2 separate regions of the Homo sapiens genome follow, and region 1 is linked to region 2. Evidence: fine-mapped expression QTL. Tissue or cell type: nasal epithelium. Region 2 holds a variant in brackets; the other region holds the start of a gene. All regions are shown on one strand. Distances are between the middles of the regions.

What was found. PIP is the estimated chance that this variant, and not a neighbour inherited with it, causes the effect.
Region 1: NKAIN2 starts here. The variant in region 2 is fine-mapped to the expression of NKAIN2 in nasal epithelium (TOPMed, PIP 0.94).

The regions. Positions count from the first base shown.
Region 1 is chr6:123,800,374-123,808,464 of GRCh38, reverse strand. NKAIN2 (sodium/potassium transporting ATPase interacting 2) reads right to left here and starts at 4,600. Exons shown (of 7, transcript NM_001040214.3): 1 at 4,211-4,600. The coding sequence starts at 4,264. RefSeq lists an enhancer at 5,795-5,844.
Region 2 is chr6:124,344,590-124,352,698 of GRCh38, reverse strand. All of the region lies in intron 2 of NKAIN2 (sodium/potassium transporting ATPase interacting 2), which reads right to left. Among named protein-coding and RNA genes, the nearest start is that of NKAIN2, 540 kb to the right of the region's middle. RefSeq lists an enhancer at 3,729-4,228. The variant A/G (reference allele first, on the strand shown) is at 4,217.

The DNA of each region.
Region 1 (8,091 bases), 540 kb after region 2:
CAACAATATTCAGGATGCATAAATAGAAAACATTTAAAAAGAAGAAAGTTATCATTTTACAACTTAGCAAACTCAACATATTTTTACATGATAAGTTTCTAAAGTATTGTATGGGGATTTTCAGTCTTCTTCATGAGTAAGTTTGGTTAACAACTTCAAGATTTTATCATCAATGGCATCTGAATCCTAAAAAGTTAAAATTCTCTGAGCCAGGAAGTTTTGTGGCAGATAAAGTTATAAACTTCTGAAAAACCGTCAAACTTGTCAGAAGTATACCAGGAATATCATAAGATTCTACCTGCACTTTTCAAGCTACTTCACAGCAACGCTTTATTTTCTAAAAAGTAATAAAATAGCACATGATTATGAACACTGCATAAAATCATGATCACTGAAATATTCCATAATTATAATAAAATTGTTTTTAATTTAGTCTACACTCACAACATCTTAAGGAAAAAAAATATGTACCTTTGAAAATGGTTAGCAATCCTGTGATAGAAAGTAACTGATCATTCTTAATTAAGTTTCAAATGTACTCCTTCACACAGCTGCACACACAATGTGTACTAACCTAATTGTTAGTTGCACCTGCTCCAAGTTAACAATATTTCATACAGCCCATGGCAATAGTGGCATTTTTCAAGTGTTATTCTGTGGAGTGTAAATCTAAACTTTCTTTCAATAGTTTATGACATGTTTTGTGCCACCCAGAAGTCTAAAGTACAAAATAGGGGATTTTGAGTTTCCTTACTTGAAAACAAATCTGTCCTTTCAGTCTAAATTAAGTTATATTCTTTCATATTTTAACGTATTTTTTCACACTGAGAGATATCAGAGTAATTTTTTCCACATTTATAAAAGAACTCTGATTCAATCAAACATTGGGGAAAACATGCCAAAACTTTCACAAGTTGAAAGTTACAAATAGTAAATAAGAAGTTAAAAACTTCTTGTCCTATACCACTACATCCACCATTGCAAATGCAGTGATGATTTTTGTTACTATCTGAAATCTTCAGTTTCTGAGTATTAAGGACAGCAATGATAAAAAGAAAATTACCTTCTTGAGATTATGAGCTTAAGCTCTGGATTCTGCACATGGAATAAATCTGTTTCCAGAGATCATACTCCTTTACGTAGGAATCACCCTAAAATCTGAAGTTGGCATAACCATACAACTCAAAGATTTTAATTTATGATATATATGGAAACAGTTTTTCATAAAATGGAAGTTTTGTATGAATCTCTATGGTATGGAATTCTAGTTTCTTGTTTTATAAACGGATCTCCTGATTTTTGAGAAGAGTATATGTTTATCAATACTTGTAGTCTGCCAAACATTAAATTAAATGTATATTTAACTAATTTAAAGCACAGATATAGAATTCTGACAGGTAAATGTCTCTGAAGAATCTGCCTCTGTCCCTCAATTGTTAAATGGTCAAAACACCGTGTCTGGTCTGATAATAACTTAATAAATGAGATCACCATATCCACAATACCAAAAGCCACCTCATCCTCTCCTAAGATTAGCTGCAAATTGGTACAGATGTAAATATTCCCTTAAATTTATTTAAAATACAAATACTTTGCTCCGAGGACTGGAGATTAATGTTTCCAGAACCTTAATCAAGTCACATAATAAAGCAACTGAATAAAGTTTCTAACTTAGAGTCTCTTTGGCCTTTTTTCCTGTACAGTTACCAAAAAAAAGATGCCCAAATGTTACAAGAACACATACTAAACACTTGAGAAGTAAACAAAACTGGGTTAACTTTTATTTCAGTCAATGGTACATGAGTCATAACTTAGTCTAGAAACCTGGTTTATTTGTAAAACAATCTACTCATAATAGCGCAAAGACATAAAAAGTTTTTAAAAATCTATTGAGAGCAAAAGGAAAACATACACACCCACCTATTTTTTAGTGCAGGGCTTTGCAACTATTAATTTGCAAAAGAATTATTTTATTTAAAATCAAATACCGTATTTCCAAAAAGCAACAATTACCAAGAATCTCTGAGGTCCTTTGAGGTGTGATCATTTCACCCTATCAAAACAATTGCATTTTCTTTGTCCTTTGTTTTTTGTTCTGCATCTGCGTTAACATGGCTGCTAATTATATTAGCCTGGTGGCACATAAAGTCTGAATGGGAAAAATCACATGATTCTCATATAATATAAAAACTCCTTAGGATTCCAATGTACACTTACTTAGATTGTGCTCTTCTGTATTACAGCTACGTCTATTCTGTTAGAGAACTTAATTATAATTCAGAATTTCTGTTTCATAAGTGATGGTGCAACTCTCCAAGACACCATTGTATGTATGGATGCATGCATGTACTCAAGAGCATATGTACATACACACATATGTGAGCACATAAAAACACAAAGGAACCTTTAGCTTTATCATTCTACTTTGAATAGATAGCTTCCCTACTGGTATATTTATGTTTTTCTAAAATTAAGTTCTTGAGGAGTTTGTATTCATCACACAAAATGTCATACAGACCTAGTGCATACATTTGCCATAAGAAAGCCCTATTATATTACATGATTAGAAGTTAAATCACATTTTTCAAATTTTAAATCGAAAAGAGCATAAGAATGATCTACACACCCACTCATTCTCACATTTTTATGCTTTCACACAGTGAATCAGCAAATGTATTCTTTTTCTGAATAATATATAAAAATAAGAATGTTTTGAAAACCTTTATACAGTTTGGCAGACTTAGCCTAATGGGTTGTTTAACAAAGTAAACTCCCTCATTGTTTTGGTTAGCTTTATTATTAAGAGTAAAAATCCTTCATTGCAAAACTTATATGAATCTGTGGTACAGAAAAATAAACTGGTTTACACATCATTGAGAAACTACCACATTCTGAAAATTACATTTATAGTTCCATCTTTGTCTTACAACCAAGTGCATAAGCGCATAAATCACAGATCAAAATAGACACCATCAGATAACTTTCAGGGGAAAGAAAAACATCCTAAGACAACACACAACAAAAAGCACTGTTTCAGCTAAATATTAAACAAAGCAGCAATAACTAACACTCATGGGCTTCACGACAACTGATAAACAAGAACACTTAAGGAATTCCTCTGCCAGTTTCAATGGCAAATCCTTGCTCTTTTGAACACTTTACTGATTGGACACTTAAACATCTTCTGCCTTGTAGTCACTTCAACCTTTATGAAACAGTTGTTGAAAACGGACATGACTATTCCAGTTAATTTATACTTTCTAAGGAAATATATTTAATGACAAGTGTGAGCAAGTAGCTCCTACCTCAAATTAACCACTTAGAGTGGTGTATTTTTCACCTCTCAACTCTCTACTCAGACCCTCCTTCCATTGCCCTTAGGGAATTGAAATTCAGAGACATGACGTTTTCCATTATTGGTTCCTTGCCCCTTTGCAACTGTACAACATTCCTCAAAAAGTACATAGAATTCTCCATCCTATAGGATCAGACAACAGTATCTATTTCAGGAGCAATAATATGCATAATGTAAGACAGAATAGTTTTTCTTGGAATTGTCTGTGTTAATTGTGATTTAAAGGTTACTGGTTCCGTCTATGACAATGGTGTTGCTGAGTTCACCTAAGTATTTTTGTTCAATCTGCATACTTTAAAAACTCAATGTGGCTAAAACTCAAACAGTCTAAATTAGACTGTTGTAAGGATACCATGTGCCCTAAACAGTGGTTTTTTTAGAGCATTATACTTAAAGACAACATTTTCCTTAAAAAAAGAAAAAAAACATGTCTATGAAGAAACAAAGATACTGCAAAATTAGTATAGAGAAGAAAAGTCCAAAATTCCGTATTCCTCTGTTTAACAACCTGTACGGTAAATTGTAGGTGACAATCACGTTGTTACATGAATAGGAATGCAAAGCATAAAGAACAAGAGCTACATCTTGCTTTTCCTAAAGAAATTAAAGACAAGTTTAACCCGCACCTGCCAAACTGTCTTAAAAGGGACAGAAATAGGTGGGAACGGAAAGGCTCACCTCTCCTGTACCCCAGAGTGCGTCTCCCTGAAATCATCTTCAATATAGGCAATATATCTGTCACCTTCTCTTTTATCTTTTTCGTCCATTCTAGTCAATGGCAGACCCTTTGCTGCACTCCCCTGCCCACTATCTCAAAGACACATTACAGAATAAGGGGACCCAAGTGTCACTTACCAGTTGCATGCCACAGATAAAGATAAGCGTGCACCTGCCACTGCAATAACCCATGGTTTCCGAGACCCCTGCCACAGCCAGACTGTCCCACGTCGGCCACCGTCGAGCCCCCACTTTATCCAATCAGATCGCGGGGAAGGACACGCAAACCTGCCGAGGGCTCGGGGGCTCCGGGCTGCTGCTGCTGCCAGCGTCCTGGGAAGTGACAGGCATTAGGACCTGCTGGCGCGGCGGCGGCGGCGGCGGCAGCTCCAGCCGCGCCCGCCACACATACCTTCACTCGCTCGGTGCACACGCCGCGCCGCGGGCAGTGCCGCCTGCGGAGGCGCGCTCGGGGCCCGCAGGGGCAGCAGCGGCAGCCTGGCAGCGCCGCCGCGCCCTCGGGCATCTGGCCCGCGAAGTTTCGCCCCTGCCGCTCTCCGCGCCGCTCGCCTCACGCCCCCCAGCGCGGCCGCCGCCCGACGCGCGCTCGCCCTGCGCTCGCCGCGCGCCGGCTCCGGGGGCGGCAGAAGCGCGCGAGGGCCGCTGCCCGCCTCCCTGCGCAGCCCGCGGCTCCTAGGCACCCTGCGTTGCTGGGCCCGGCGGGCGGGGGTGGGGCGGGGAGCGGGGCGCGGGCCGAGCGGGGGCGTCCCGGCTCCGCGGTCCCCGGCGGCTGCTGCAGCGGCTGCTGCGCGCAATGATGCGGGTCCGCGCCGCGTCCCAGCAGCGGCGCTGCCCCTCCCTTCGCCCAGATGTGTGAATCCTCCTCCTACAACAAATCCTTCATCCTGCTCCCTGCCGCCCCCTCCCAGGGGGCCAACTTTGAGGACCGCAGGGGCTGCCGCCCAGGCGGCCGCAGGCGGCGGTGTCTAGGCGGAAAGGAGCGGCGCGAAAGCGGCGGCGGCGGGGACCGGGGCCTCGGGGCGAGGAGTCTGGGCGGCATGACCGCGGTTTGCTGAGCTGAAGTCGGTCGTGCTCCCAGAGCCACTCCGCGGGAGCGAACCGAGTGTGTGTGTGCGCGCGCGCTCGGGGGAGAAGGGACCAAGAGGAGGGTTAGGGAAGGAAGCTGGGGTCATGGAACAGGGGTGCAACCGAGGCATCCAGAGCGGCCGGAAAGCCCGAGTGGCGGAGAGGCCAGAGGTGGCGAGAAGGGGCGCGGCGGCACCGGACGCACCGCCCAGCACCTGGCTCCCCTGGGCTCCCGAGGATCTGAAGGGTCGGAGCGCGGAGAGCTACGGAGCCGACCCTGCTTGGGGAAGGGGACCGAGTTGCTGCTGGAGTTGGGAAAAATTAGCAACCGGAGGGAATAGGGATGCAATGAGTTGCTGTTGCTGCTTCAAACTGTTGTTTGTTTTCACTTAAAATACTAAAGAGTCGGAGACTAGTTTAATACTCAGTTACTTCAGCTTCACAGCAGTCCCAGCTGGGTGTGGATTCCTAGTGGAGATGCACCAGCCTCCGCTGAGCACCGGCCTGAAAGCTGTGAAGCGGCTGCTACCTGCAGAGACAGGCTTCGGAGCCCGCTGCTGCCACCTGCGGGCGGAAAGCTGAAGGGCGCAACATGCTGGCCCAAGTGGCTGCCCCTGGGGCGTGGATATTTAGGACCAAGTTTCCTTTTTAGCCCTGGCAGCTAAGGAAAGCAATCCTAACTTTTCCAGGAAGTGAAGATTATTTGTTGAGATCCACTGAGGAACTGACTCATTGGGGTGAAGTGTCGCGATTGATAAGAGGATGGTTTAGGGAGCTAAATAGCAAACAGCTCCCTAGCACCCTTCTTAAGAGATTAAGATGACGAAGCCACATCAAGCAGAGAGCTCTCTGTAGCAACTGGAACTTGGCGCCTACTGAGAAAAATGGCATTTATACAGGATAAAGTTATGCTGGGAACCACAAATAAGGATCCCGAATGATTGCTTCCTTTGAATAAACATTATGACGTATCAGAATGACTAAATACAAATAAATTGAATAGGGCAGAGAGACTATTCTCCAGAGCCTGGCACTGAATTTTCAGAAACGTTTCGTCAGTCCTAGGGAGCCAAAAAGGGATTAACTTTGTTAAATTTATGGAGCACAGATATTTTATTGCTATAATGAGAATGTCTGGTTTTAATCGACCCATTTGTAAAGGGGCTTTTCTTCTGAAAAGTGTCTTTCAATGTTTAATAAAATTCCCAAGAGCCCAATATGTGCTCTTAGGCACTGCAAAGCCTGGAAGGTAATAGTTCCACAACCTTTGGTAAAACTGAAGCCAGTTATCTAGTGGAAAATGTTTCTCTTAGTTGCTCTTCTGTCTTTATACACGTTAGCTGTCCTGTACCTGCTAGGGCTATGGGTATTTTGCATTGCCAAACAGAAAGCTGTAAGTTAATTGACTGTTGAAGAAGCTGCTGCCATACTGTCAAAAGCATTCTATTACCTCCTCAAATTAATCATAGGAACAACACATTTATATGGATCCCTCCGTAATCCTGCAGAGGTTTCCCTGCAACCAGCAATAGCCTGAGTAATCTTTAGGTTGTATAGGAAAGCAGAATGCTATCTGTAGCTGACTCCAGCAGTGCCCCACCATAGTTCTTGGACTGTGCCCTTTCAGTCCATGCTTGCGTTTTTGTAATCACTTGGGACAGTCTGTTTTCTAGCCATTGGAGGTGCTTGGCTGAACAATAAGGTTCCAGCCCTAAGAGCTACCCTCACGCAATAATGGATGGGAATTGGAGGATAAATACCCCAGCTTCTTCAATCCTCATATGGGAAACCGTCAGACATGTTCTAGTCTACACCATTAAGGTCCCCACCGAGATTGAGCCCTAGGTGTCCACAGTAGTAACTGGCTCATTCATGCGCTCTGAATTGGCTTCCTTCCCTTCCATGCCTCATCTCCCTGCTTTCATACCACTGCTTCCTGGGATCACCTCTGAAATAAACCACTCAAATCCTTGTGTCAGAGCCTGCCTCTTGAGAATCCCAACCTAAGGCAGTCTCCAGGGGCTTTTATACCTCATCTGACGTCATTGGCACAGTGTTCTCAGAAGTGTGAACTACAAACAATGTTGAGACTTCACTATGTGCAACTACTGCCTTATGTACTAAACCTACATCGTCTCATTCATTCCTCACAGGAAACACATGAGTTGATACAATGCACATTCTAAAGATATACAAACTCAGAGAGAAATCAAATATTTTTATCACGGGTGCACGTGTTCTTGGCGGCAGAATTAGAATTTGAAGGGCATGATTATAAGACACCAAAATTCGCTTTTCGAACTACTGTACCACACTCCTTTATTTCAATATACTTCCCTGTCATTCTTTTAGAATTCCATACGAAAGTGATGACAAAAATATTTAGAAGAATAATCACACATATTTTATCTCTAAATTGGCATCACATCCTTTACATACAGTATAGGCAATGCCTGACTTATGAAAGGGCACCCTAGTTATAGATGCAATTCTATAACTTAATGTGGCTATGCACTTCCTATTCTGTTTTCTATTATTCCTGGAACTGAGTGTCTTAGTAGAAGAGACTAAAAAGAGAATCCCAACAGTTCCACAGACGTTTGTGAAGGAGAGAGATGTCTCCAATTTGAATGTTGATTGCATTTTCACTTAGAAATAAGGTCATAAACTGTTTTGCTATATAAGGTGTTAGACCTTTTGTTGACTAATATGGTGACATAAGTATTGTGAATTGCCTTGTTTCTATGGGGAAAATGTGCTGCACATTCCACACCTCCATCTGCCTCACCTTCCCGTACTGTTTTAAAGTAGTTTTCAAGGTTGTTTCAGATCTATTATCTCATTTATCTCTCAGAACAACTCATGCAATGCAGTAGGCACACAGCCACTGAGTGAACCGGGTTACAGACTGCTAACACTCAATCACTTCAGCT
Region 2 (8,109 bases):
TCCTTTGTGCACAATGACATATTTTCCCCATATTATTTATAATGGAGAGCTAAATAAACACTATTTACTAAAAGTCAAAGTAGCAGGATACTAGGACTTCAGCAATGGCTGATGAGCTAATGAAAGACACTGTATTACACATATCAAACTCTCCTGAAAATTTGTCGTCGGCAAGCATTCTTTCCAATATAGTATTTAAAAATGTCAATGCTGAAGCTTTTTAATTTCATAACTAAAATTATATTTTATGCTTATTAAATGCTAACCATGTTTATCTGTATTCACATGGTATATATGGAATAGTCACTACTTCAGTATTATATGTTGAAAATATAATAAAAATTTGGAATCTTCATTTATACTTAGTTACTTACATTTATGTGTATGTATAAATGTAAATTATACCTAGTTTGGTTAAAAATCAAGTTGAAACATTTATGTTTTAGCCACCAAAATTAATAATTTTATGAAAGCATATGAAAGGTAATGGATTACATGCAAATAAATAGCATATAGAGAATGAGAACACAGAACCTAACATCTGGCTCTGTCACTTGGATGCTCTTTGACTATCTTCAAGTGATATGACCCATTACAATTAAGTTTACTTAAATATAAAATAGGCTTCTTAGTAGTAGCAAACTCCATGGCTTGTATGGGAATGGAATGATCAACTGTTTGAAAGTACACAATACTTGAATTTTCACTATATGTTGTCATTTTATTATGATGATTATGTCACATCATCATCTCTTCTTGTTAAAATAATAAGCAGTAGGGTCGGGCGCGGTGGCTCAGGCCTGTAATATCAGCACTTTGGGAGGCCGAGGTGGGTGGATCACCTGAGGTCAGCAGTTTGAGACCAGTGGGCCAACGTGGCAAAACCCCATCTCTACTAAAAATACAAAATTAGCCAGGCATGGTGGCAGACGCCTGTAATCCCAGCTACTAGGGAGGCTTGAGGCAAGAGAATCACTTGAACCCAGGAGGCAGAGGTTGCAGTGAGCCAAGATCGCACCACTTCACTCCAGCCTGGGTGACAGCGCAAGACTTCATCTCAAAATAAACGAATGAATAAATAGATAAATAAATAAATAAAATAGCAGTAATCCTCAAAGATTTATTTATTAGGATATTACAAAATATACTTCCCACATGATTTCTTCTTCTTTTCTTTTTTTTTTTTTTTTGGTTTTTTTGAGACAGGATCTCACTCTGCCACCCCGGCTGGAAGGCAGTGGCCTTGGATCACTGCAGCCTCAACTGCACTGGTTCAGGTAATCCTTCCACTTCAGCCTCTTGGGTAGCTGGAACTACAGGCATGCATCACCATGCCTGGCTAATTTGTTGTATTTTTTGTAGAGAGAGTTTCACCATGTTGGTCTCAAACTCCTGGGCTCAAGCTATCTGCCTGCCTCAGCCTCTCAAACTTCTCATATTAACTGATATAAAACATTGTTCCATCATATTGAACTTGCAAACTAGACTTGTTTACTTAATGCAACATATTATTCACTAGATTAAGGGTTTTTGATATATTAACGCCATTATGTATAGACGAATGCTATTTCATGAAACCAACCTTCATTTGATCTAAAATACAATTTATTATTTCTAACTTAGTGCAACACATAATTATAAAGCATTTTCTATGTCTTGTTTTATGAGTTACTTTTTTAAAAATATTTTTATTTATTTATTTACTTTTTAGAGAAGGCGTCTCACTCTGTTGCCAAGGCTGGAGTGCAGTGGTGCTATCATAGCTCACTGCAGCCTTGAATTCCTGGACTCTAGTGATCCTCCTGCCTCAGTCTCTTGAATAGCTAGGACTACAGGCATGTGCCACCATGCGCAGCTATGAGTTGCCTCTTGACAGTATTTATTGGCAATTACTTTGGAGTAGAATATAATTTTTTATCCTCTTTTTTCCAGAGTAATTCAGAAGGATATGTACATAAAGAATATAGCAAATGTTCCTTTCATATCCTTGCATTTACTTTCACTATTTTCACTTAATTGTATATTTCATTACAATCCAGTTAGTCTCACAATGCACTATCCTTCATTACAGATTTGCCAAAAACACTGGTGTAACCCCTTTAATGAACATAGAAATCCACCCTAGTGCTACAGAGGGTAATTGCTACTTGTGCATCACTATCCAAAGGCAGGACTTTATCTAATTTATCTCATTTAACTTTCCTCATTAATTTTCTCTCATTTATCTTTCTTATACCTCCTATCTTAATCCTATTTTCTTTTTTTATTCTTTTCTACATTTTTTTTCTCATTTTAGTAGCTGGCACTTATCTATATCAAATATCCTGTAATTGGATTTTGCCTAGTTGCCTAAACATTGATGGAGATTTTGTACTGCCTTGTAATTCGGCCTATGATTTTTGTCAATAAACCCTGCTCTTAAAATTACTCAGCATAGTTATTTAAGAGTATAAAGATCAGTACAAACTTCTTCCCTGTTGCTACAACTAGTTGATGTGATATAATTGACAATGATGCAGTTTGAGTATAATTGGAAAAGATGTTCTGCCCTGGAGAGATGACCTAATATAATAAAGTATCACAATTGCTAGATACCACCTAACTTGTAGTTTTCTGCTATAAAACTAATTTTGTTTTAGCCTCATTTTTTCTTGTGAAGAAAATCTTATATTTTATGTTTCAGACAGAAACTTTGAGATATTGTCTGTGATGAGAGAAAAATTCTATTGTATGATAAAATTCACTTTTAAGAATTGATTTCTGAAGCACCAGGTGAACCATCTGAGAGATTAACTTAACTTGAGAATCCAGGGAAATGGTTAAAACTATCAGCTGAAAAAAGTAATTGAATCATCATGGCTTCCCTGTGGTATTTGTGGCTCCAATGATGAAATCAAATTAGCTATATAAGATAAAAATTAGTTAAGGCTGTTAATCATGAAAGGCCAAAATATTGGTCAGGCTCAGAGACATGGCCCTATTATATGTCATGGGTTATACAATAATTAGAAAGGTAGACCAAGGTAGTATAAGACTAAGAACTTAATTAGAAAAGGAGGTGAGTCATGAATGAGTTCACTTTTATTAAATACCAGCTGGATGCAAGTGACTGCAACAGAAGCTACAGGGAAATATTACAGAATATAACTGAGTAACTCTCCTAATATTATCTATATGTATTAATGATTGACAATTAATGCAATCTATAGGAATGTTTTTAGGTGTGATTGTTTCTACTAGGATGCAAAACTAGTATCAGCTCACCAATATCACAGATATCATGCTGCTAATTTTAATGTAATAATGAGGCAGCCAAGTAAAAAGGGGTCCCTGGAGAATACCCAACCGGCCTGTGCACTGGGAGAATGGGGTGGAGCCTCGGGAAGTTCCCGCCTTTGTAGGGGGGAGCAGGCTGGCTCTCCTCTTCCTGTGTGGTAACCTGGGATTCAATCTGTGAGGGGGTAAACCAGCTAACAGGACTCTCTTGCTTTGCTGAGGGTTCCTGTTTCCCTTTTTTCCTTTGCACCCAATAAACCCTGCCCTACTCACCCTACAATATGTCCACGTGTCTAAATTATCCTGGTCCTCTGATAAGAACCCGGTTTTTTCCTACAACAATAATATAATCAGTTCTAATAAACTACGTTAGAATCACTCCTAAGGAACATTGTACTAACAAATCTTGTCTTAAAAACAACTGCTAGCAATCAGCGAGACTCCCTGGGCATAGGACCCTCCGAGCCAGGTGTGGGATATAATCTCCTGGTGCACCGTTTTTTAAGCCCGTCGGAAAAGCACAGTATTGGGGTGGGAGTGACCCGATTTTCCAGGTGTTGTCTGTCACCCCTTTCTTTGACTAGGAAAGGGAACTCCCTGACCCCTTGAGCTTCCCCAGTGAGGCAATGCCTCGCCCTGCTTCGGCTCATGCAAGGTGCACTGCACCCACTGACCTGTGCCCACTGTCTGGCACTCCCTAGTGAGATGAACCCAGTACCTCAGATGGAAATGCAGAAATCACCCATCTTCTGCGTCGCTCATGCTGGGAGCTGTAGACCGGAGCTGTTCCTATTTGGCCATCTTGGCTCAGTCTCGCTGATTGCTAGCACAGCAGTCTGAGATCAAACTGCAAGGCAGCAGCGAGGCTGGGGGAGGGGCACCCGCCATTGCCCAGGCTTGATTAGGTAAACAAAGCAGCCAGGAAGCTCAAACTGGGTGC[A/G]GCCCACCACAGCTCAAGGAGGCCTGCCTGCCTCTGTAGGCTCCACCTCTGGGGGCAGGACACAGACAAACAAAAAGACAGCAGTAACCTCTGCAGACTTAAATGTCCCTGTCTGACAGCTTTGAGGAGAGCAGTGGTTCTCCCAGCACGCAGCTGGAGATCTGAGAACGGGCAGACTGCCTCCTCAAGTGGGCCCCTGACCCCTGACCCCCGAGCAGCCTGAGAGGCACCCCCCAGTGGGGGCAGACTGACACCTCACACAGCCGGGTACAACTCTGAGACAAAACTTCCAGAGGAACAAGCAGACAGCAGCATTCGCGGATCACGAAAATCCACGGTTCTGCAGACAATGCTGCTGCTAACTATGCAAACAGGGTCTGGAGTGGACCTCTAGCAAACTCCAACAGACCTGCAGCTGAGGGTCCTGTCTGTTAGAAGGAAAACTAACAAACAGAAAGGACATCCACACCAAAAACCCATCTGTACATCACCATCATCAAAGACCAAAAGTAGATAAAACCACAAAGATGGTGAAAAAACAGAGCAGAAAAACTGGAAACTCTAAAAAGCAGAGCGCCTCTCCTCCTCCAAAGGAACGCAGTTCCTCACCAGCAACGGAACAAAGCTGGACGGAGAATGACTTTGACGAGTGCAGAGAAGAAGGCTTCAGATGATCAAACTGCTCCGAGCTACAGGAGGAAATTCAAACCAAAGGCAAAGAAGCTGAAAACTTGGAAAAAAATTTAGATGAATGTATAACTAGAATAACCAATACAGAGAAGTGCTTAAAGGAGCTGATGGAGCTGAAAGCCAAGGCTCGAGAACTACGTGAAGAATGCAGAAGCCTCAGGAGCTGATGCGATCAACTGGAAGAAAGGGTATCAGTGACGGAAGATGAAATGAATGAAATGAAGTGAGAAGGGAAGTTTAGAGAAAAAAGAATAAAAGGAAACGAACAAAGCCTCCAAGAAATATGGGACTATGTGAAAAGACCAAATCTGTGTCTGATTGGTGTACCTGAAACTGACGGGGAGAATGGAACCAAGTTGGAAAACACTCTGCAGGATATTATCCAGGAGAACTTCCCCAATCTAGCAAGGCAGGCCAACATTCAGATTCAGGAAATACAGAGAACGCCACAAAGATACTCCTCGAGAAGAGCAACTCCAAGACACATAATTGTCAGATTCACCAAAGTTGAAATGAAGGAAAAAATGTTAAAGGCAGCCAGAGAGAAAGGTCGGGTTACCCACAAAGGGAAGCCCATCAGACTAACAGCTGATCTCTCAGCAGAAACTCTACAAGCCAGAAGAGAGTGGGGGCCAATATTCAACATTCTTAAAGAAAAGAATTTTCAAGCCAGAATTTCATATCCAGCCAAACTAAGCTTCATAAGTGAAGGAGAAATAAAATACTTTACAGACAAGCAAATGCTGAGAGATTTTGTCACCACCAGGCCTGCCCTAAAAGAGCTCCTGAAGGAAGCACTAAACATGGAAAGGCACAACCGGTACCAGCTGCTGCAAAATCATGCCAAAATGTAAAGACCATTGAGACTAGGAAGAAACTGCATCAACTAATGTGCAAAATCACCAGCTAACATCATAATGACAGGATCAAATTCACACATAACAATATTAACTTTAAATGTAAATGGACTAAATGCTCCAATTAAAAGGCACAGACTGGCAAATAGGATAAAGAGTCAAGACCCATCATTGTGCTGTATTCAGGAAACCCATCTCACATGCAGAGACACACATAGGCTCAAAATAAAAGGATGGAGGAAGATCTACCAAGCAAATGGAAAACAAAAAAAGGCAGGGGTTGCAATCCTAGTCTCTGATAAAACAGACTTTAAACCAACAAAGATCAAAAGAGACAAAGAAGGCCATTACATAATGGTAAAGGGATCAATTCAACAAGAAGAGCTAATTGTCCTAAATATATATGCACCCAATACAGGAGCACCCAGATTCATAAAGCAAGTCCTGAGTGACCTACAAAGAGACTTAGACTCCCACACAATAACAATGGGAGACTTTAACACCCCACTGTCAACATTAGACAGATCAATGAGACGGAAAGTTGACAGGGATACCCAGGAATTGAACTCAGCTCTGCACCAAGCGGACCTAATAGACATCTACAGAACTCTCCACCCTAAATCAACAGAATATACATTTTTTTCAGCACCACACCACACCTATTCCAAAATTGACCACATAGTTGCAAGTAAAGCTCTCCTCAGCAAATGTAAAAGAACAGAAATTATAAAAAACTGTCTCTCAAACCACAGTGCAATCAAACTAGAACTCAGGATTAAGAAACTCACTCAAAACTGCTCAACTACATGGAAACTGAACAACCTGCTCCTGAATGACTACTGGGTACATAACGAAATGAAGGCAGAAATAAAGATGCTCTTTGAAACCAACGAGAACAAAGACACAACATACCACAATCTCTAGGACACATTCAAAGCAGTGTGTAGAGGGAAATTTATAGCCCTAAATGCCCAGAAGAGAAAGCAGGAAAGATCCAAAATTGACACACTAACATCACAATTAAAAGAACTAGAAAAGCAAGAGCAAACACATTCAAAAGCTAGCAGAAGGCAGAAATAACTAAAATCAGAACACAACTGAAGGAAATAGAGACATAAAAAACCCTTCAAAAAATTAATGAATCCAGGAGCTGGTTTTTTGAAAGGATCAACAAAATTGATAGACCGCTAGCAAGACTAATAAAGAAGAAAAGAGAGAAGAATCAAATAGACGCAATAAAAAATGATAAAGGGGATATCATCACCGATCCCACAGAAATACAAACTACCATCAGAGAATACTACAAACACCTCTACGCAAATAAACTAGAAAATCTAGAAGAAATGGATAAATTCCTCGACACATACACTCTCCCAAGACTAAACCAGGAAGAAGTTGAATCTCTGAATAGACCAATAACAGGATCTGAAATTGTGGCAATAATCAATAGCTTACCAACCAAAAAGAGTCCAGGACCAGATGGATTCACAGCCAAATTCTACCAGAGGTATAAGGAGGAACTCGTACTAATTCCTTCTGAAACAATTCCAAACAACAGAAAAAGAGGGAATCCTCCCTAACTCATTTTATGAGGCCAGCATCATCCTGATACCAAAGACTGGCAGAGACACAACCAAAAAAGAGAATTTTAGACCAATATCCTTGATGAACATTGATGCAAAAATCATCAATAAAATACTGGCAAACTGAATCCAGTAGCCCATCAAAAAGCTTGTCCACCAAGATCAAGTGGACTTCATCCCTGGGATGCAAGGCTGGTTCAATACACGCAAATCAATAAATGTAAACTAGCATATAAACAGAACCAAAGACAAAACCCACATGATTATCTCAATAGATGCAGAAAAGGCCTTTGACAAAATTCAACAACCCTTCATGCTAAAAACTCTCAATAAATTAGGTATTGATGGGACGTATCTCAAAATAATAAGGGCTATCTATGACAAAACCACAGCCAATATCATACTGAATGGGCAAAAACTGGAAGCGTTCCCTTTGAAAACTGGCACAAGACAGGGATGTCCTCTCTCACCACTCCTATTCAACATAGTGTTGGAAGTTCTGGCCAGGGCAATCAGGCAGTAGAAGGAAATAAAGGGTATTCAGTTAGGAAAAGAGGAAGTCAAATTGTCCCTGTTTGCAGATGACATCATTGTATATCTAGAAAACCCCATTGTCTCAGCCCAAAATCTCCTTAAGCTCATAAGCAACTTCAGCAAAGTCTCAGGATACAAAATAAATGTGCAAAAATCACAAGCATTCTTATACACCAATAACAGACAAACAGAGAGCCAAATCATGAGTGAACTCCCATTCACAATTGCT